3 separate regions of the Homo sapiens genome follow, and all the other regions are reported to be linked to region 2. The links are microRNA targets in miRTarBase. Many come from high-throughput screens and were not tested one by one. Region 2 holds a microRNA gene; each other region holds the end of a gene's coding sequence.

The links. Region 2 holds the annotated microRNA hsa-miR-506-5p (UAUUCAGGAAGGUGUUACUUAA, at 2,194-2,215, opposite strand). A microRNA usually pairs through its seed, bases 2 to 8, with sites in the 3' UTR of a target mRNA and lowers its output. Matches are read on the target gene's strand: a 7mer-m8 pairs with bases 2 to 8, a 7mer-A1 pairs with bases 2 to 7 and ends in A, and an 8mer does both.
Region 1: the mRNA of MRPS10 is a reported target of hsa-miR-506-5p. Seed matches in the 3' UTR shown: 7mer-A1 at 987-993.
Region 3: the mRNA of DNAJC27 is a reported target of hsa-miR-506-5p. Seed matches in the 3' UTR shown: 7mer-m8 at 4,817-4,823.

What each region holds. Positions count from the first base shown.
Region 1 is chr6:42,201,585-42,208,758 of GRCh38, reverse strand. MRPS10 (mitochondrial ribosomal protein S10) reads left to right here. Exons shown (of 7, transcript NM_018141.4): 7 at 387-1,952. The coding sequence ends at 470. Among named protein-coding and RNA genes, the nearest start is that of GUCA1B, 10 kb to the right of the region's middle.
Region 2 is chrX:147,228,595-147,235,793 of GRCh38, forward strand. MIR506 (microRNA 506) reads right to left here and starts at 2,249; the gene lies at 2,126-2,249. MIR507 (microRNA 507) reads right to left here and starts at 2,483; the gene lies at 2,390-2,483. The region is part of intron 2 of LOC105373347 (periphilin-1); the gene reads left to right.
Region 3 is chr2:24,941,524-24,948,722 of GRCh38, forward strand. It overlaps DNAJC27 (DnaJ heat shock protein family (Hsp40) member C27), which reads right to left. Exons shown (of 7, transcript NM_016544.3): 7 at 2,119-6,225. The coding sequence ends at 6,093. Among named protein-coding and RNA genes, the nearest start is that of ADCY3, 25 kb to the left of the region's middle.

The sequences.
Region 1 (7,174 bases), not on the chromosome of region 2:
AGTTTGCCCTAAACTGTGGCAAACTGGGAGACACAGTTGCCACAGCGGTTGGGGGCTACCCACCCCTTGCAACAGAATCCTGCCATTTCAGCCCAAGTCCTCCGTGAACCACCTATGAAGTTCTCCCTCCTCAATATGAGTTGTCTAGACCTGGGGATCCCATTAAGTGGCAATCCATGAAGATCATTGAGGATCAAATCGATTATGTATGTGAGAGTGTTTTATAGACCATCAAGTTTCCTTCTTTCCATTTCAAAACCCTATAGAAAGACTAGGGGGATAAAAGAAAAAGAAGTAAAGAGGATTTGACCAAATTAATAAGTCCGATTTGTAGTCAAAGAGTTCTGTTAAATCCACATTATAGTTTTGTTTCTTTCTTTTTTTAGACACAATTAGAACAGTTACCAGAACACATCAAGGAGCCAATCTGGGAAACACTATCAGAAGAAAAAGAAGAAAGCAAGTCATAAAGCCTCAGGGAGGCCATTTTTGCCTAAATTTGAAATGAGGGTGGGCCAGATGAGTATGTTTAAGTGGAGAGTGCTTCCAGCTGAGATGATTTGAGTCTGCCCTAACTGCTCCATTGAGTTCTCGTGCCCTCATCAGCTGAGGGCAGGGAATGGAACTTTAATGGAAGAACCACTTTTATCTATTCTTTTTATTCATTGTTTCAGTTCTGATTTCAGCAAACATGAGCAAACCACTTTGACTGAAAGCAGAAAGAGTGAAAATTCTATTTTGTTACGCTACTGGTGTTCAATTATTAGTTTGTACCATTTTTAATTTATGTCAGTTGATGCATCTGAAAATAAGTGCTTGGAGTGTTCGTACCCTTATTTTTTTTTAAGATTCCTAGAAGGAATCTTTGGTTAATTCAGATTGAGCAGTTAAAGTTTTTGCTATTTACCTTTGTGCAGGCTGGCATATGCTAATTTGGGGGTGGTAACCAACCGATTTTATCTCATGTAAGCATTACATTTTGAAGACTGAATATACTTCACAGCAGATCAAACACATTTATGGCATGCACTGACCTCTTCTTGGAGCCCAGAACTTTATAGAGTTGCCTACCAGGGTTACTGTAATGGAATTTATGATCTTAAGAAATTACTAGTTGTATTATTTATCCTATGATTCATTCATTCAATAAGCTTTTACTGCATAAACTTTACATCCAGCACTGTAGTTAAGTACCCAAAATTGAATAGAAATAATGGCTTTTGAAAATCGCACAAAGCAGGCCAGGCACGGTGGCTCACGCCTGTAATCCCAGCATTTTGGGAGGCCGAGGCAGGCGGATCACGAGGTCAAGAGATCCAGACCATCCTGGCTAACACGGTGAAACCCCGTCTCTAATAAAAATACAAAAATTAGCTGGACATGGTGGCACGTGCCTGTAATCCCAGCTACTCAGGAGGCTGAGGCAGGAGAATTGCGTGAACCCGGGCCCGGTGGAGGCTGCAGTGAGACGAGATCGCGCCACTGCACTCCAGCCTGGCGACAGAGCGAGACGCCGTCTCAAAAAAAAAAAAAGAAAATTGTGCAAAGCATAGGTAAATATTTTTCTTTATTAAGCTTCTCACTGAGAAGCCCTCTTTATTTTGGTAAATGTCACTCTGTTTGTTAGGAGATGTCTGCTTTTCCATGAAATGAAATAGTGGCTAAAGCCCTGAAAGAGGCAAGACTACAATGGGCTGAAACAGTTGGTATAGCAACCCCAGAGAAGTGCTTCATTTTCTTTTTATAGTAGAAGCAGGTCCATGTCTTTTGTGGTTTCCTGCACATCTTTGGAGTAGTTATGACTTCTCAGTTTTTCCCCCCTTAAACTGCATTGCCTATTCTTTTTTCCTGACATGCTATCAGGTATCAGTGTGTTGAATACATACTGCTTGTGTATCAGACTTACGTTACTGTCATCACCATTAAAAGAATTGCAGCTTTGTGCCCCATGACCTTCAGCTCAGTTGTTGACTGTCATTCATGAATGCCTAAAGCATACTGACACCAGGTATAAGTACTTGAAGATCAAGAACTAGTCAATAAAACATGAGCAACATAATGGTAACTATGTGCAGCAAAGCAGCAATTTATGACACATTTTCATCTGAAGTAATTCTTTAAAAATAAATATAGACCCGGCCGGTTGTGGAGGCTCAAGCCTGTAATCCCAGCACTTTGAGAGGCTGAGGCAGGTGGATCACCTGAGGTCAGGAGTTCGAGACCAGCCTGGCCAACATGGTAAAACCCCATCTCTATTAAAAACACAAAAATTAGCTGGTCATGGTGGTGGGCGCCTGTAATCCCAGCTACTTGGGAGGCTGAGGCAGGAGGATTGCTTGAACCCAAGAGGTGGATGTTGCAGTGAGCCGAGATTGTACCATAGCACTCCATGTAAACCAAAGTCCTTAGTTTAGGACTTCCAATTATGTGTTAAAACCTCGGCTTAAATAAGCAAATGAACTACATGTGCACACATGCACGTGAGAAAAACTAGCAGTATTTCTTTTTTCTTTTTCTTTCTTTTTTTTTTTTTTTTTTTGAGATGGAATCTTGCACTGTCACCCGGTCTGGAGTGCAGTGGCGCGATCTCGGCTCATTGCAACCTCTGCCTCCCAGGTTCAAGCGATTATCCTGCCTCAGCCTCCCAAGTAGCTGGGACTACAGGCATGTGCCACCACGCCCAGCTGATTTTTGTATTTTTAGTAGAGATGGGGTTTCCCCATGTTGGCCAGGATGGTCTTGATCTCTTGACCTCGTGATCCACCTGCCTCGGCCTCCCAAAGTGCTGGGATTACAGGCATGAGCCACTGCGCCTGGCCCAAAACTAGCAGTATTTCTTCGACGAAAGTATTTGGCATATTTGAAGCCCGCTTCTTGATATAAACAAGTTTGGCATGAAGTACAGTACTGAAAAAATGATATAAACAAAATAACTTCTTAGCTTATCAGGATATAGCTATCTTGATAGGCTAAGAAGATTTTTGGTTTTCTTTTGTTGGTTTTAAATTAGGCCTCTGAGTAAAATGCATATCCTGAAAATTAGAATTAATGCCTGGGTCACACTTTCTGTCCATGGTGGGTATGGGAGATGGTGAGAGAAGAGTGGATTTGATAATATATGTTGGTGCAAAAGTAATTGCAGTTTTTGCCATTAAAAGTAATGGCAAAAAAAAAATAGAATGAACCGGCCAGGAGTGGTGACTCACGCCTGTAATCCCAGCACTTTGGGAGGCTGAGGCGGGCGGATCATGTGAGGTTGGGAGTTGGAGACCAGCCTGGCCAATATGAGAAACCCTGTCTCTTCTAAAAATACAAAATTAGCAGGGTGTGGTGGCGCATGCCTGTAATCCCAGCTACTTGGGAGGCTGAGGCAGGAGAATCCCTTGAACTCAGAGGTTGCGATGAGCCAAGATCACGCCATGGGCAACAAGAGTGAAACTCCATCTCAAAAAAAAGAAAAAAAATAGAATGAACCAGAAGGCAGGTAGGAAGTGAGATGATCTTTTTTCTTTTTCTTTTTTTTTTTTTTTTTTGTAGAGACAGAGTCTTGTTCTGTTGCCCAGGCTGGAGTGCAGTGGTACGATCAAAGCTCACTACACAATCGAACTTATGGGCTCAAGGGATCTTCCCACCACAGCCTCCCAAGTAGCTGAGACTAAATGTGTGCACCACCACACTCAGCTCATTTTTTTATTTTTTGGAGTCAGGGTCCTGCTCTGTCGCCCAGGCTGGAGTGCAGTGGCATGAACACAGCTCACTGCAGCCTTGACCTCCTGGGCTCAGATGATCCTCCTGCCTCAGCCTCCCAGGTAGTTGGAACCACAGGCATGTACCATGATACATGGCTAATTTTTTAATCTTTTTGTAGAGATGGGGGTCTCACTTTGTTGCCAAGGCTGGTCTCAAATTCCTGACCTCAAGTGATTCTTCGGCCTTGGCCTCCCAAAATACTGAGATTACAGGCATCAGCCATCATGCCCAGCCTATATTTTCTTCATATTAAATAAAATCATGTTCTCATCCAAGAGTCTTAGTATAACTACAGATCTCTGGTAAGACAGACTAAACTAGTTCAAGTGCCAAGTTTCAGTGCTTTGAAAGAATGGCATATGTTCCTGGCCCTATGACCATTTAAACATGCCACAGTGAATACATAAAGCAATCATTTTAAATTATTAGTCTAGTTTCTTAACATTTCTAGTTGTCTGCAACCATCCCTGTCTTACATTACATTATTAAGTTAGTTCTATTACAAGACTAATGAATGACAGAATAGAGCAAACATGGACTTTGGAGTCAGACAGACATGAGTCAGATAAGAGTTCAAACCCACTGACTGCCGTAAACTTGGGCAAGAGATTTAACCCTGTCAGGGCCTCAGTGTACTCATTAGTAAAGGTAATAATAAGTCTGTAGGAAATAATACCTACATACTTACATTTGACATATATTTAATGCTCCAGCTTAATAAGGTTGGAGTATTCGATAACTGATAAAAAACCTTGCACAGTATTGAGCAGGTAACAGACATTCAGTAAATGGCAGTACCATTCCGATGATACTTTAGATGCTTGTGTGCTATACTGTTCAAGAACCAGCTGGAAAAGACCTCAGGTTACCTCCAGGGTAGGGATAACATTTACCTTAGAGTTTTTGTTTTTGTTTTTTTGAGATGGAGTCTCGCTCTATCACCCATGCTGGAGTGTGGTGGCACAATCTCACTGCAAGGTCCGCCTCCCAGGTTCACTCCATTCTCCTGCCTCAGCCTCCCGAGTAGCTGGGACTACAGGCACCCGCCACCACGCCCAGCTAATTTTTTGTATTTTTAAGTAGAGACGGGGTTTCATTGTGTTAGCCAGGATGGTCTCGATCTCCTGACCTCGTGATCCGCCCGCCTCGGCCTCCCAAAGTGCTGGGATTACAGGCATAAGCCACCGCACCCAGCCCTTAGCGTTGTTTTTCAGACAGTTCTGGCTCTATCACCCAGGCTGGAGTGCAGTGACAATCTTGGCTCACTGTAACCTCCGCCTCCTGGGCTTAAATGATCCTCCTACCTCAGCCCCCTTAGTAGCTGGGACTATAGGCACACATCACCACACTCGGCTAATTTTTCTTTTTTTTTCTTTCTTTTTTTTTTCTGTAGAAACAGGGTTTTGCCATGTTGCCCAGGCTGGTCTCAAACTTGTAAGCTCAAGCAATCTGCCAGCCTCAGCCTCCCAAAGTGCTGGGATTATAGGCATGAGCCACAGCGCCCAGCCACAAACCAAAAATCCTTTGATTTTTATTAACACACTGAAGTACTTACCATTGTCCCCATTTTACAGGACAGAAAACCAAGGCTTAGAGAGTTGTTATTTGCCCACTCAGTCACCCTTTCAGCTTACAGATGAAGCTGTTAGTGACAGGGTCAGCCCTAGAAGCTAATTTGTAAGCAGGCTATGAGGTACTCAAATATCCACATACTAAATGCAGAATATTCAAAGCTAAATTCCAGGTTTGTTCACCTCTCACGTTACCAAAATGTACTCGTTTCCTCTAAAGCAGGGGTGTCTAATCTTTTGGCTTCCCTGGGCCACATTGAAAGAATTGTCTTGGGCCACACATAAAATACACTAACGCTAATAATAGCTAATTAAAAAAAAAATCATGAAAGAAAATCTCACAATGTTTTAAGAAAGTTTACCAATTTGTGTTGGGCTGCATTCAAAGCCGTCCTGGGCCGCATGCAGCCCGTGGGCCTCCAATTGGATAAGCTTGGTCTAAAGCTTAGAAGTAAAGTGATTGACTGGGAGGAAAAATTAATGAATTAAAGCAAGAAGCAAGATACACGGCACAATTTAGGTGGTCCCACTGCTCAGACTGGTCCTGAGGGAGGGGGCAACACAAGAGTTTAGGCATCAGCAAGGGGAGTCCTACTCGGTCACAAGAACACTCAGATGGAGATGATTCACAGTGGGGCTTCAGGTCCAGCCTGACTAGGGCTCAGAAGACATGGGTTTGTCGATTTTAAGCATATCTTTGCCCCTGGAGCCAGGCTTATGGCTGACTGCCTGCAATCCCCAGGACTCTCTTTCCAAATCCCCTGCTCAATTCCTAACCCTGCCCTCCTTAAATCCTTTCTATTGTTACTCACTTCAAGCTCTCATTTCTCTCTATGGATTCTTAATCCTCTTTATTTTATTTATCTATTTATTTATTTATTTTATTTTTATTTATTTATTTGTTTATTTTTTGAGACAGGGTCTGACTGTCGCCCAGGCTGGAGTGCAGTGGCACAATCTCGGCTCACTGCAACCTCTGCCTCCCAGGTTCAGGCGATTCTCGTGCCTCAGCTTCCTGAGTAGCTGGGATTACAGGCACCCGCCACCACGCCCAGCTAACTTTTGTATTTTTAGTAGAGATGGGGTTTCGGTGTGTTGGCCAGGCTGGTCTCAAACTCCTGACCTCAAGTGATCCGCCCACCTCAGCCTCCCAAAGCGCTGGGATTACTGGCTTGAGCCACCATGCCCGGCTGGATTTCTAATCCTCTTTAAAATGATATATTTATAACTCAGTAGCTCAGCGACATTTATTTATAGGGCAGGTCATGGGCAACTGACCCACATGAAAAACCAATTGAATTTTAAATTCCTCGGCCAGAGGTTAAATCAAGTTATATTTCACTCATAAAATTTCTTAACTTGGGCAGAGATACTGTACTTTAATCAATCTTCAATGCTGCTTAAATAATAAGTGTTAAGAGATGGATGGAGCCTGGCCAACATGGCAAAACACCACCTCCACTAAAAATACAAAAATTAGCTGGGCATTCCAGGTGCTTAGGAGGCTGAGACATAAGAATTGCTTGAACCCGGAAGATGGAGGTTGCAGTGAACCGAGAGTGTTCCACTGCACTCCAGCCTGGGTGACAGAGGAAGACCCTGTCTCCCTGTCTAAAAAAAGAGAGATGGATGGGAATAATACTACCTTCACACCAAGCCAGTTGAGATGCTGCTGTTACAGAGCCACGGCTGCTGATGGGCATGTGTTATCTTAAAGTGTGTTGAGATGGGTAATTGGAAATTAATGGGCTAGATAATCTTCAAGGCCTTTTCCAGTTCTAAAATCCCATTATCATTTTTATCTCAACAAATACCTGCTAATCTAGACACTAAACAGAGTCAAAGAGGAATTG
Region 2 (7,199 bases):
CTTAGTATTACTATGCCTTGTGATTAAGGTCAGTAGAAAACTACAACAACCCAATCCTGGCAGGACTACTAATGGCCCAGACCCTTCAGAAATGAAAGTTTGGGTCACTCTACCAGGTAAAATATAATGGCTGAGGTGCTTGCTGAAGGCAAAGGGAATACAAAATGGGTAGTGAAGAAAAGTAGTTGTAAATACCAGCTAACACCAGATGACAGTTACAGAAATGAGAATTGTAGTTCCCATGAGTATTTTCTACTTATATTTTTATTAATATACTTCTGTGTTTTCTTGTCTCTCTTATCCCCTTATCATGTAACGTAAGGTGTACTGATATTATATCATAGTTATTAACCGTTGTTAACTTTAAATAATCATAGTATTGATGTTATGGAACACCAAGGAGAAGAGTAAACAAACAACACTCCAGGACTTTATCTCCTCTTCTGGTGAAGTGGTTCATGAATTCTGGGTTGTATAAATGGTAGTTGTATCTTATTAAATGAAATTATGACCTTGGTATTTTTCTCATTTGATGATTAAATATAATTTAAGGAGATGCGTATAAGTGACAACATGACAAGGAGTGAACTTGTGATGATTAATTCTATATTTCAACCTGACTGGGTCATGGAGTGCCCAGACATTTGGTCAGTCATTATTCTGGGTGTTTCTGTGAAGGTCTTTTTGGATGACATTAGCATTTAAATCAGTAGAATGAGTAAAGCAGACCACCCTCCCTAATGTGGATGGATGGGCCTGCACCAATCAGATGAAGGTTTAAATGGAACAAAAAGGCTGACTCTCCCCTAAGTTAGAGAGAATTCCTCCTGCCTGACTGCCTCCAAACTGGGGCATCTCATTTTTTTCTGGCATTGTACTCAAATTAAAACATTAGCTCTTCCTGGGTCTCAAACCTGCTGGCCTTTGGACTGGAACTACAAAATGGTTTGTTCTACTGCTTCTTTGGCCTCTGGACTTGGACTGCAACTATACCATCAGTTCTCCTGGGTCCCCAGCTTGCTGACCCATCCCCCTGCAGATCTAGGAACTCACCAGCCTCCATAGTTGCCTGAGGTTATTCCTTGCAGTATCCTTATAATAAATATCTTAAGGGATTTATTTTAAAAATAGACTTCTATAATAATTATATACATATATATTTGCTCAATCATTGTCCTGGGTGTTTCTTTGAAGGTCTTATAAGACCTGATCCAGAATCTGAGGGTGCCTGGGGTACCTGTGAAAAGTATGTCCTGTAGGTTTTTTAAGCATTTATTCCTTTTTCTCCACAAAAGGACTACAAAACACTGGGAACAAGATTTGAGGTAGGAACATGATCCTTTTTCTGCATCCTTTTCCTTTTTCTGTGAATGTCATATGTATGTGTGTGTGTGTGTGTGTGTGTGTGTATATATATATATATATATATATATATATATATATATAAAGGGATATATAAACCCCTTTGTATATGTAAAGTTTCCAGAAGTATATGTACACACATGTTCATACATATATGTTCTCATCACTTCATCCGTTCCCATAATAGTTAAGACCAGCTAAAAACATATAAATAGTTCAAATGAAAGCAAATTTGGGGTATCATATCAAACTCCACTGATATGAGATTATCATCACGGATACACAGGAATATTAAAGGGAATTTGAGTGTATCTAAGCCTTGAGGAGATCACTTCATAAGAAAGATGGTTCATGGAGTTTGGAGTTCAGCAGGGAAGGGCAGGAGGATATTTGTGCTCCCTAAAAAGAAGGCTTAAATATTGTGAGGAAAGAAGATCAGTGTAAACTTCTCAGGGGTTTATAAGGCAAGAAGTGTATTTGGGTTGTTATAGAGAGAAAAGACTAAGAGGTACAAGAGAAAAAGAAGTATCATGTTCCTACCTCAAATCTTGTTTCCAGTGTAGTCAGTCATTTTGTGGAGAAAAAGCAATAAATAATTGAAAAACCTACATGAGAGACTTTTCCCAGGCACCCTCAGATTCTGGAGCAGATCTCTCAAGAGGTACTTCAGAGAGTACCTGGAAATGGCTCATCACTAAAGGTTGGGTACCAAGGCTCAAGGGAGGGCAGTATTGTCACTGAAATTCCACTCGTCATTACCAATGCCACCACAAATGTTGTCCATGTTGCACATTACTCTACTCAGAAGGGTGCCTTACAAATATTAATCTATTAAGTAACACCTTCCTGAATAAGGCACTACACATAGTATGGCTGATGGTGGTGGCACTGACCATCTTAATAGTAACACGGGGAAACTACAGATGAGGCTATTCCCAGAGAACCTCATCCTCTAGGTTTTACCCCACAGAATTCTCTTTAAAGGGTTGTATGAGTTGACCCATCACTGAGTGGGTAGTTCTGACTTGTATCTGTTGTGCATTATTTCACTCCAAAAGGTGCAAAACATATTTCTAGACACATGCATGGCACTTCTTGAAGTGAAGCACTACACACAGCACAGCGGAAAATGTCCCTCACTCCGCCATTTCAGTCAGAATCCCAACACTCTCAGTCCACTAGGAATAAGCAGAATATAGTCAATAGATTAAAAAAAAAACAAACCCTTTTTCCTCTCCCTTTTGTCTCCTATGTCTTTCACTGAATGCTTATTAATTACTTCACCTGCTGCACATTTAATGAGACAGATTTTAGGAGAGAGAAAATTTTCCCTCTTCCTCCCAGACTTAGCATACTTCACTAAATTGTTCTGCTAATTTTCAATTTAATATAGTTGGCACATGAACAACTACTTCATATGCCTCAAAAGCCAGTCATTACATAGAAAGGACCACTCAAGTGACTCATCATATCTAGCGATTGCAGGCCAGATAGAGCTCAGTTGAAGCAGTGCTGGAGAGTTCTCTTCTTTCCAATTTGAATCTTCTTTATATCATTGGGGCCTTGGTTTGGCATCCTCTGTTCAGAGATGAAGGCCTACAGCAGCAGAAGCAGTAGTCACCACAGTCATGCACTTGCAAACCAGTGTTTAGACCAAGAAATATCTGCAACACATGTGAACACATGCATGCCACACATGCAAATAAACATGTGAACAATGAAACAAACAACCCCAAAACGAATGCTCACAAAATAGGGCAATGCAAACACAAAGACAAACACTGCATGATCTGACTCATACGCAGAGTCTAAGAAAGTTGATCTCATAGGAGTAGAGAGTAGAATGATGGTTACCAGAGTCTGGGGAAGGGAAGGGAAAGGGGGGTTGGGGAAAAATTGGTTTATGGGTACAGAGTCACAGTTAGGAGGGCTAAAAGTTCTGATGTGTTATTGTGCAGAAGAGTGATTGATTATAGTTAGTTAACAATATTTTATGGTATATTCCAAAATCACTAGAAGAGAGGGTTTTGAATGTTCTTCCCACAAAGAAGTGATGGACGTTTGAGGTAATGAAAATACTAAATCCCTGATTTGATTATTACACAATGCATGTATGTATCAAAACATCTCACTATATCTCATCAATATTTACAAATTATTATGTGTCAACTAAAAAAACAATAAAGGAGTAACAATTTTTTTTTTGAGACAGAGTTTTGCTTTTGTTGCCCAGGCTGGAGGGCAATGGCACAATCTCAGCTCACTGCAACCTCCGCCTCCTGGGTTCAAGCGATTCTCCTGCCTCAGCCTCCCACGTAGCTGGGATTACAGGCATGTGCCACCAGACCCAGCTAATTTTCTGTATTTTCTGTAGAAGCAGGGTTTCACCGTGTTGACCAGGCTGGTCTTGAACTCCTGGCCTCAGGAGATCCACTGGCCTCGGCCTCCCAAAGTGCTGGGATTACAGGCATGAGCCACCGTGCCCAGCCGGGAGTAACAATTTTTAAGAATGTAAAAATACTACTGAAAATTCTAATTAACACACATTTAAAAACACCATTCAAAATCGGAATAAAAAAAAACACACAAAATATACAAAACACATCCAAATATACAAAATTCTACAGGAAACAAAAACCCTAAAAAAGCAAACAAGCAATACAATAACAAAAATCAAAAAGAACATACACAATACAAAAACCCCCAAAACATAAAAACAAATACACTAAAATGTAACTTTACTTTCCAATAATCCCAAACAAAACAGAGAACGAAGTTCAAAGGAAATCTAGCACGTATCAGGGATAGACGACACTGCACTGAGAAATGCTGCGAGTGTAGGAAGGAGAGCAGTGGACACTGAGAAGTAAACAGATGAGGTATCATAATAAACAATGATAGAAAACAAAGTAGAACAGTTTCCCACCTCTTCACTACAGCCTGTATTTCCTCATGACTTTGGGTGAAGTGAGGTATTTGGCCACTGCAAAAACAAAATCCACACACATCATCAGTTGCCAACTAGACACCAAGAAAGACATGATTTGAAAGAGCTTTCCTGGGAGATAATGTAGCAGCAGACTATCAAATTCTATCCCATCCTCTGATATGGACATGTAACATTTACACCTTGCTTCCCAGGTCGTGCTTCCTGTGGGCTCCAGGAATTGGTTCTCCCTCCCCCTCTACTTTCTCCTCCCCCTCCCTCCCCTTCTCCTTCTCTCTCCCTCTTCCACCCTCTCCCTTCTCCCCTTTCTCCTCTTCCCCTCCCCTCTCTTTCTCCTTCTCTCCTTCTGCCTCTCCATACAGATATTTTTATATCAAGGTTCATAGCTACGTCTTTTCTAGTAGTCAAAGCCAAAATAGCTATAAACTGGAGACAAATGGCCATTAACAGGTGAATGCATTTAAAAAAAACTGGAATATCCATACAGTGGAATACTACTCATCCATAAAAACAAATAAATTATTGATGCAAATAACAATGTGGACGAATTTCAAAATAATTATGCCAGGAGAAATAAGCTAGGCCAAAATAAACAGTATATACAGTATGATTCCATTTTAATAAAAAATTTTGGCCAGGCACCGTGGTTCATGCCTGTAATTCCAGCGCTTTGGGAGGCTGAGGTGGGAGGTTCAGTTGAGGTCAGGAGTTTGAGACCAGCCTGGCCAACATGGTGAAATCTCGTCTCTACTAAGAATACAAAAATTAGCTCAGCATGGTGGTGTGCGCCTGTAGTCCCAGGTACTCGGGAGGCTGAGGTAGGAGAATTGCTTGAACCTGGGATGCAGAATTTACAGTGAGCCGAAATCACGCCACTACACTCCAGCCTGAGTGACAGAGAGAGACTCCATCTCAAAAAATAAAAAATAAGAATCTGGAAAATAAAATCTAATCCATAGTGAATAAAAGCAGATTAGTGGCTGCATGGCTCTGTGGTTATGTGCAGAAGACCGAAAATGAGGATCACAAAGAGGCAGGAGGAATCTTTCAGGGAGGATGTATAATATTCCCTATTTATTTTGATTTAGGGGATGATTTCATGGGTGTATAAACAGAATATGTCAAAGCGCAAACTTTATGTCAGTCATGTATCAACGACGCTTTTTAAGAACTAAAGCTATCACAATACAAAAATCTCAAAATAACAAACACATGCTCATACACACAATTCAAAAAAACCATATAAGCTAAAAAAAAAAAATCAATCAACAAATAATGCAAATTATCCCTAACAAAAGAAAGAAATTTTAGCCTTATGTACCAAAACTTCTATAAATGATTTTTTAAAAAGTAATGAATCAGAAAAACAGGGCACAAATAAATAAAAACTAAAAAGTAAACCAATAATATATTTTTAAACCCCTATCAACAATCATCCCAAATTAGAAAAGCTCAACAAACAGGATTAAAATAAATAAATAAATCAACTACAACAAATTCCAAACAGAATCAATACATGAACTTATCAATTAGAAAGCATGTTGCAAATACCAAACCATGTAAGCATACACACAGATACTGAGGCAAAACATTTAAAATCCAAGCAAACTCCCACAACTTAAAAAAAAAAACACATCCCCAATAAAGCGCACATATATATGAAAGACAAAACTTTCTGAGCCCCACACAATTAAAGGGGAAAAAATAACTACAGCAACAAAACAAAATTCATACAAATTTAAATATCCCAAAACACAAGGAAAATGAAGAACCCCCCCCCCCCACACACACACACAAAATAAAACAATAAACACAAACTGAAACTAAAAATACATGGAAAATAACAAAATACTTTAAAGAAGTCAACATCATTCAAAAATAATCACAGAAATGCACGCATACACACCCACATCCATCCACCCACCCACCCACTCACATATACACACAAAAAGTCAGCTGAAAAGCAAATAGAAATACACTAGAGAATAAAACAAAGAAAGATATAGCAAAACAGCAGGAAAGAAACAAACATGTCTAAATACACAAAGGAAACTACAACTAAAACAACTCCCAAGCACCTCTCAGTACAAATCAAACCAAACGCATAAATTAAAACCAAATCAAAACCAAAGAAGAAAACTCAGATTGGAACCAACAACTAATAATTAAATCATGACAGCCCCCTCCCCCCGAAACAGGAATAAAACATTTGCTGAAACACAAACCACAATTCTAACTTAAAAAAAAAAAAAAACTTCAAGTATGCAACGAAACAACAAGCAGAGGTGCCATGAACACTGAATTGCAAACAATAAAAAATCACACTGTACCCCCAAAATATGTACAATGATTATGTGTCAGTTAAAAATAATAATACAAGCAAACAAAATAAACAAATAAACCTAAAAAGGAAGAACCAACTTTGAAAAATAAATGCACAGAGACTGGAAATGAAAGGACAATTATAAACAAAATAATATCACAAAAAACAAAAACAAAACCAAAATCAGACAGTTACCAATGTCTGGATAAACAATATTACTAAGCAAAAACAATTTGAAAAGTCCCCCCAAACCCAACCACAATATGCACATGAACGAATCAACTAACTAAATTAACTCATTTGTAAAAACCAACACACACATACTCACACACAAACTCACACCTTCTCAAAAATAAGCACAAATTTGAGAACAATTTGCAGTGGTGCCACTGTCACTGCCCCAGACACACATCTAGGGTGGTGAGACTTTCTGCCCAGGAAAACTCTTAGAGCTCATGAAATAGGGAAGAAGATACCATGAGCAGTAGACACTGGTTGTACACAGGCGATAATGTAGTAGTATTAGTGATATAAGAGAAGAATACCCTTCCTCTTGATTACAATCTA
Region 3 (7,199 bases), not on the chromosome of region 2:
ACTGCAACCTCCGCTTCCTGGGTTCAAGCGCTTCTCTTGCCTCAGCCTCCTTAGTAGCTGGGACTACAGGTGTTCACCACCACCCCCAGGAAATTTTTGTAATTTTAGTAGAGACGGGGGTTTCGCCATGCTGGCCAGGCTGGTCTTGAACTCCTGACCTCAAGTGATTCCTGCCCCCACCTTGGCCTTTCAAAGTGCTGGGATTATAGGTGTGCGCCACTGCGCCCAGCTGGAACTATTTCCTTTAGGCCAACCTGAAAAACTGAGCTTGGCATAATGATAATGGTTGCGCTCTCAAAAAAATAAAAGCATTTAACAACCTACATGATCTTCAGTATATAGTAGCAATAAGAGTATTAATTCTGAAATTGTATATCTTGAAGATTTCTAAAAAATGCAAACTTGCTTCTTCAGAAATAAATTACAGAAAAAAAGAAACTCTTCAAAACACAAATTTTAAAAAATGACACTAGACTGTAAGCTCCACAGGGCAGGGATTTTTGTCACTTCTGTGCTCTGCTAGATCTCCAGTGCCTAGGACAGGGCCTGGCACATGGTAGATGCTCAGTAAATACATGGTGAATGTATATATATATATATATATTTGAGACGGAGTCTCGCACTGACGCCCGGGCTGGAGGGCAGTGGTGCGATCTCGGCTCACCGCAACCTCTGCCTCCCAGGTTCAAGCGATTCTCCTGCCTCAGCCTCCAGAGTAGCTGGGATTACAGGTGCCCGCCACCATGCCCAGCTAATTTTTTGTATTTTTAGTAGAGACAGGGTTTCACTATGTTGGCCAGGCTGGTCTCGAATGCCTGACCCCGTGATCCACCCACCTCGGCCTCCCAAAGCGCTGGAATTACAGGTGTGAACCACTGCACCCGGCTGGTGAATGAACACTTTAACAATAAAGTTTGATTAAAAATTTAAGAAATTACAGGTGCCCTCGATAGACAATGGATCAACTGGAAACTAAAAAGCCAGATAATTTTGCATCTTAAATTGACCCTGAAATGAACTGAGTAAGTCCAGTTCTTTTCCATTTACAACTGGTTATTGGTTTAAAAAGCAGCCAAAGACTCCAGTTGAGAAAAACTAAGTAATTGGATATATTTTAATACATAAAATGTTACACTTGTTAAATGTTACTGACCATAGCTTTCTCATCCCTGCTTATGATCCTTGTTGGCTTTTATTTTCTAACATTCTTTAGGCTGCAGGTAACAGAAAGCAAACTCCAACTAAACTGAAGCAGTAAACAAGTGGAAGGACTCCGAGGTGGCTGACGAGCTTGACAAACAAGCTCACGGGCCCTCCCTCAAGGACTAGAAGGCAAGGCTGAAAACCATCAGGACTCTGCCTCTCGCTGGATGTCTGCTTCATTCTCAATTTTTTCCCATGAGGTTGGAATCAAGGTTGTCAGCCATCACTGGGACTTCTTCCTTTCCTGAGAGAAAGTATCTTCCTAGCTTCAGTTGGAGAGATCCTAGGGAAGGACACCTATGTGACCTATTTGGGGTCACATTCCTGTCCTGTGGACTGGTGTCTGTGACCAGGGAGGAAAGATGGGAAAGAACTTGAACTTTGAGGCCGGGCGCAATGGCTCAGCAGTGGCTCACGCCTGTAATCCCAGCACTTTGGGAGGCCAAGGCAGGTGGATCACGAGGTCAGGAGATCGAGACCAGCCTGGCCAACATGGCTAAAATTACAAAAATCTACTAAAAATACAAAAATTAGCCAGGTATGGTGGCGGGCACCTGTAATCCCAGCTAATCGGGAGGCTGAGGCAGGAGAATTGCTTGAACCCAGGAGGTAGAGGTTGCAGTGAGCTGAGATCACACCACTGCACTCCAGCCTGGGTGACAAGAGTGAGACTCCATCTCAAAAAAAAAAAAAAAAAAAAAGAAAAAAGACCTTGAACATTTTGAACGTCTCCCCCTTAGACCATGTTAGTAGGATGAAGAGGACAGAGTAGCTCCCCTGAAAGAGGGGTGGGCCATTCTCAGGAATGTCTTACTGAGGGTCACAGTCGGTGAGGAACTGGATTGGCATCTAGCTTAGTATGTTTTCCATTAAAGACCAGTGTTTCCACAAATAAATGCAGCCCACAGACCGGTGTTTGATACTTGGCTTTACTTTATAAAAATACACAACTTAAATACATATGACACTCTGTTTACAAGACATAAACTGGTAGATTTAACATTTTCAGTTATTTCAACAGAAAGAAAATATGTAAATTACCTTGTAAGAGCAAAGAGTTCATTTATAGACTCTGCTTTCACAGTTAAGGGGGAAGAACGCCCAGGGGCAATCAATGCAGGAAGCTAACCAACACTGTCCAGCTCTCCAGCAAAACTCATCTTGCCAACAGGGCCTCTATTGCACCGCCTAATATTGCACTGCTCGTTAGACACCATCTCACTTATCCATGTCACCAGTGTAAGCTTTTGTCTTCTCTAGAAAAGTTTAATGGAAAAAAACGATGTACAAACAGTAAAACTGTATCTTACAATTGTGCTAAATACCAATTATGAGAAGTACGAACCTCTCTTCACTTTGCAAAGCTTGCAATGGAAAGTGGTTAGCTATATTTTGCAGCTAAGTTCATTTTCAAAAGTTTTACAAAACCTTTGATTCAGAGTAAGCTTGATGGGGTACAGTGGCAAAGGAGGTGACATTCCCATGCCTAGTGGAATTAGTTGTAAGACGCGCACTGTCACTGTCAAAGGCAACAAGCACATGGCTTACAGCTCCACCTTTCTAACTTTTGGCAAAATCCCTCCCTTCCCCTTGTGATGTTGTCATTGTTCAATGGGGCACAGCTCCTTTTTTTTTTTTTTCTTTTTTTTAAAAAACTGATTCAGAGCTTGCAGTGGCTGCTTACTTACTCTGGCTATCTTTCAGAAATTTAGCTGCCTTATCTATAGCTCATTTAACTAACAGTGAATTAGGTACTAGTTTATAGGTATAAAGAAATAGTTACTTAGTTGAGAATTCAATATATGAGAACATACTAGAGTAAGTTTCCTGAGGTAAAAGTATGCCTTAAAGAATGATGTGCAATCTATAAAACTGTAGCATTTTCTCTTGGGTAGCAACACAATGACCCCCAAGTCTGGATTTTTAAATTAACAGGCTAAGAAAACTAAGGACACATTGATATAGAGAAATAAAATAACAATGCTGAAGTCAAAGAAATATTGACAGCTGAGATATCAATTCAAAAGGAGGCATGAAGGGGAACAGAGGAACAGAAGGAGGCTGTATTTTAAAGTGCTTAGGTAGGTTAGAAGATGAATTTGAAATGCCTCCAGGGATTTCTAACAAGTTTAAAAAGTGTTACTTCTTGGTGACTCAGATGTTGAAGACATGGCTTTTCTTTAATAATAGCTATTCAAACTTTTTATTCTTTTTTGAAAAACAAGATTCTCTATAAAAACGTTTTAGCCATTGTAATTATTCTGCTAGCTGTTACTCTCACTAATGTATTTTGAAATCCTAACTGGCTGAAGAATTTTTAATAAGGTTGAACTACAAAGCACACATTTGCACCAAGAATTTAAATTAATGCATAGATGTCTGTGAAATTCTGCATGAAGTTAGTGCCAAAAAAACCTTTCCATTGCAGATCATGCTTTATTTCTTAATATTCTGCTGAAGGATTATAGAAATCAGAAAAATTCTAGGACCCTGAAGCTTAACTTGCTTATTTTATTCCTTTTACGTAAATGAAGTGGTATATGGCCATTCTTAACATTAATAATGAAGGTGTTGGAAACTGAGTCTCAAGACCTAAGAATCAAGCTCAGGCTAAATTTCACCAACTCACACATAAGGATATGAGTGGGAGCACTAATGAATTTTCTCTGCTGTAATTGCTCATCTGTGCAATACGGCTGAATGAGGTTCCCAATCTAGTATTTAATAACAGTGATGAAAACTGGCACCAGCTTTCATAGAGGGCCACACATTCAGAGTTGTCGTGTCAATTCGGGCTGACGCTACCGTGCACGATCCCTCATTCATATGACTTCTACATTCTGCTGTGAGGACAGACATGTCTGAGTGCTTTCAGCATGATAAAGGCCTTCCTTAAGCAAAATTTAGGTCCCGAAGAACTCTGGGTTGGAGTTCTGTAGCCTCAGAAGCCAGTTAAAGGCCAGAGGAAAACCTCGCAAGAAATAACATATATCAATCAGTTCATTTAAAAAGTTGTTTTGATATTACCAAGATGAAAAGTGCGATGATAAAGCAACGCTCTGGTTTCCTGAAGACAAGCTCAGTGCAGCCCAAGTACAGGCATACAGTGAAAAGCTGCTGTGTGGAAAATCCACAAGGCTGCAGTGGGCTTGGATTGGAAGAAAGTGGCTTTTCTTCTTAGGAGGTAAGGTAGATGCTCTTTGGCAATCGATATGGGATAGCTTTTTAAAATTCACAGGACAGGAAGATTTTATATACTTTCAAGCCCCAATTAGTACAGCTAATTGAAAGTATATAAAAATGTGAATTAGTGTGGTTGCAGCTAAAAGTATGAGTGATGTAACAAGAATGACGACGTAATGAGTCAAGTGGTGAGACTAGTTCTATAAGCACCGTAAGGAGTGCCAGTCCTAATACATGAACTTCATCCATCCCTTGTATATCAAGGAGGAGACTGTGGTCAGAGAATGTATTTTGTAAGCTATAGTTTAAAAATATTACTCTTCAGAAATTTGGAGCCCAAGCAGGAATTACAGAGATTCCTCCCAACAGAGGCCCTGAGATCTCCCCTGACTGCCACCCAAAGGATCCACACTTGCCTCTGATCAACCAGATTCAGGCCAAGGCTTAGAAGAGGGAGGAGGCAGTGGCCAGAAGCCAGGGACTCTAGAGGAGAGAAATGATGGCAGATGTGGGGTTCAGAAAAAACACAAGACGGGAAGGGGAAGAGGGGAAAAAAGGAAGAAACAACACTGGTGAGGAAGTGTAGAAGAGGCCAACTTTGCTGAGGAGTGGCCCTGCCTTTCTCACCTGCCTGTGGCAAAGGCTGGCAGTAAGACAAGGGCTAAGCCTCATAAGGAGTCTCTCCTACTGCATCAAGCTTGCCCCAAGCTTGGCTGGCCTTTCCTCTGCTGATGTGCATAATCTTTAAGTGCGACCTCTAAGTACCTTTTTTTTTTTTCTTTAAGAGACAAGATCTTACTATGTTGCCCAGGTGGGACTTGAGCTCCTGGGCTTAAGCAATCCTCCTGTCTCAGCCTCCTGAGTAGCTGGGACTACAGGCGGATACTACTGCAGCTGGCTCCTCCAAGTACTTCTGTCTTGGGGCCTGATTCCTCATTCCCAGGTGCACAGTGCTCTCTACTGCTACCAGCAACCATTTCTATGGCAAGGGAAAGGCCTCAGATCCAGGGACAGGATAGGCAGCAGCCAGTGTACCTAGAATTTGTGGCTGCCACCACCTTTTCTCTTAGGACTGGCTTGTCTCTCCCACTGGTGGCTGCAGAAGAGGAACAGAGTGAATATCATAAAGGAATGCTCAATTCAGAACTGTATCACCTCATTTTACAAACTCCCAAAGGGCTGCCAAGAGTCATCATTATAGATCGATGGGTTAAAATACCACCTAAGGAACTCATTGTAAAAGCAGCAACTTGTCTGTAAGGTCACACCAAACTTACAGGGGTTCTGATGTTGTTTGCTTCCATTTTTGTTATTTTCTTCTCTGATGATGAATTCCGTAAAAAAGAAAAAGTGAAAGGGTCCTCTTGTCCTCTCTTCCCTCCTCCAGGAACCTTGTGGATTTCCCCAAGTGAAATGTCTAAGTGATACTATAATTACAGAGCTGACGAATGAGAAAAAAATTCAGAATTATCTAGAAATATGAAATGAAGTACAGGGTGTGACGCTCAGTTCACTTCATACAAATGCAGGTCATTTCTCAGTAAAATGTCTATGAAATGGGTACCTGAATTACTGATATACAAATGACAACACATGAATGAAAAGAGCAGTGAGATTCTGGGAAGGAAAACTCCACGTTGGTTATTTCACCTCTAGGGAAAGTCTGTTTGCATTTGAGTCCCACATGTGGCTTTTTTCTGTACTTTCTACTTGATGTTTTTCAGGAGGGCTGTCCGAGCATTCACAACTGCTTTGAAGGCATCTTCACTGCCAGGTGCTACACATTTGTCAGGGTGAAGAAGCACAGCAAGTTTCCGATACGCTTTATTGACTTCATCCCTGGGAAAAGAAGCCAAGATCTATGTTAGTAACAGAGTCAGCCCAACCCACTGCATGTTAGCTGTTTGGACACACATAGTATCTCTTACAGTGAACATATCCTAAATTATTACCCTTTCTCAAAGGCAGGATTAAAGGACTAGAAAACAGACAACCAACCAATAAATAGTATGTAATATATAACACAAATTGAAAAAGTTATTATTGCACAATGCAAAAAGTATATAAATGCTAACAAAACACTTAGTAAAATAATAATCAGATGAAAACAGGCAGTACTTGGCACCTCACAGGCACTCAGCATATCTTTGCTGATTGAAAGAATAAGGGCTTGGGCACCAGGGAAGGCATCCAGAGTTGCCTTCTGAAAGAAGGGGTTCTGGGAGAGAACCAACAGTGGCCTGGAATGGAGCCCGAACACAGCACAGACGGGAAGCAAAACAACCCCAACACCTGGGCCTGATAAACAATCACAACAGTAGGTGTTTCATGACAAGTGTGTGCTGGGAAAACTGTTTCTTGAAGTTAGGATACAGGAGGTTGTTACATAACCCAGGCATGAGTGAGTACAAGTTTAGATTAAGGTATTTATGGAAGGAAACAAGGGAAGATAAAAGATAAAGAAAGAAATGGCAGAAGTGGATGATGAGCTGAATATCCAGGAGGAGAAGATGAAAAGAAAGGGGCTGAAATGAGCTCCAGGGTCAAGGTCACGAGGAATCTGAGGCCCAAGAAGGTGACACCACTGAGCAAGCAAGGGATGCTGGAAAGGGGTAGTCCAGAATGACAATGAGCTCACGAGACCAAAGAAGAAACACGACAGAGATCAGTATTATCCAGAGAGGAAAGGAGCAGTAGCAGTGCTTCTCCAATCCGGCGGTTCCGATAAACCAGCAGCGCTCCAGGAGAGAGCTGCAGGCTTCTGAGCTCCTCAAAGAGCCAAAACTGGCTGGGGAGGGGCCTGGACCCATCTG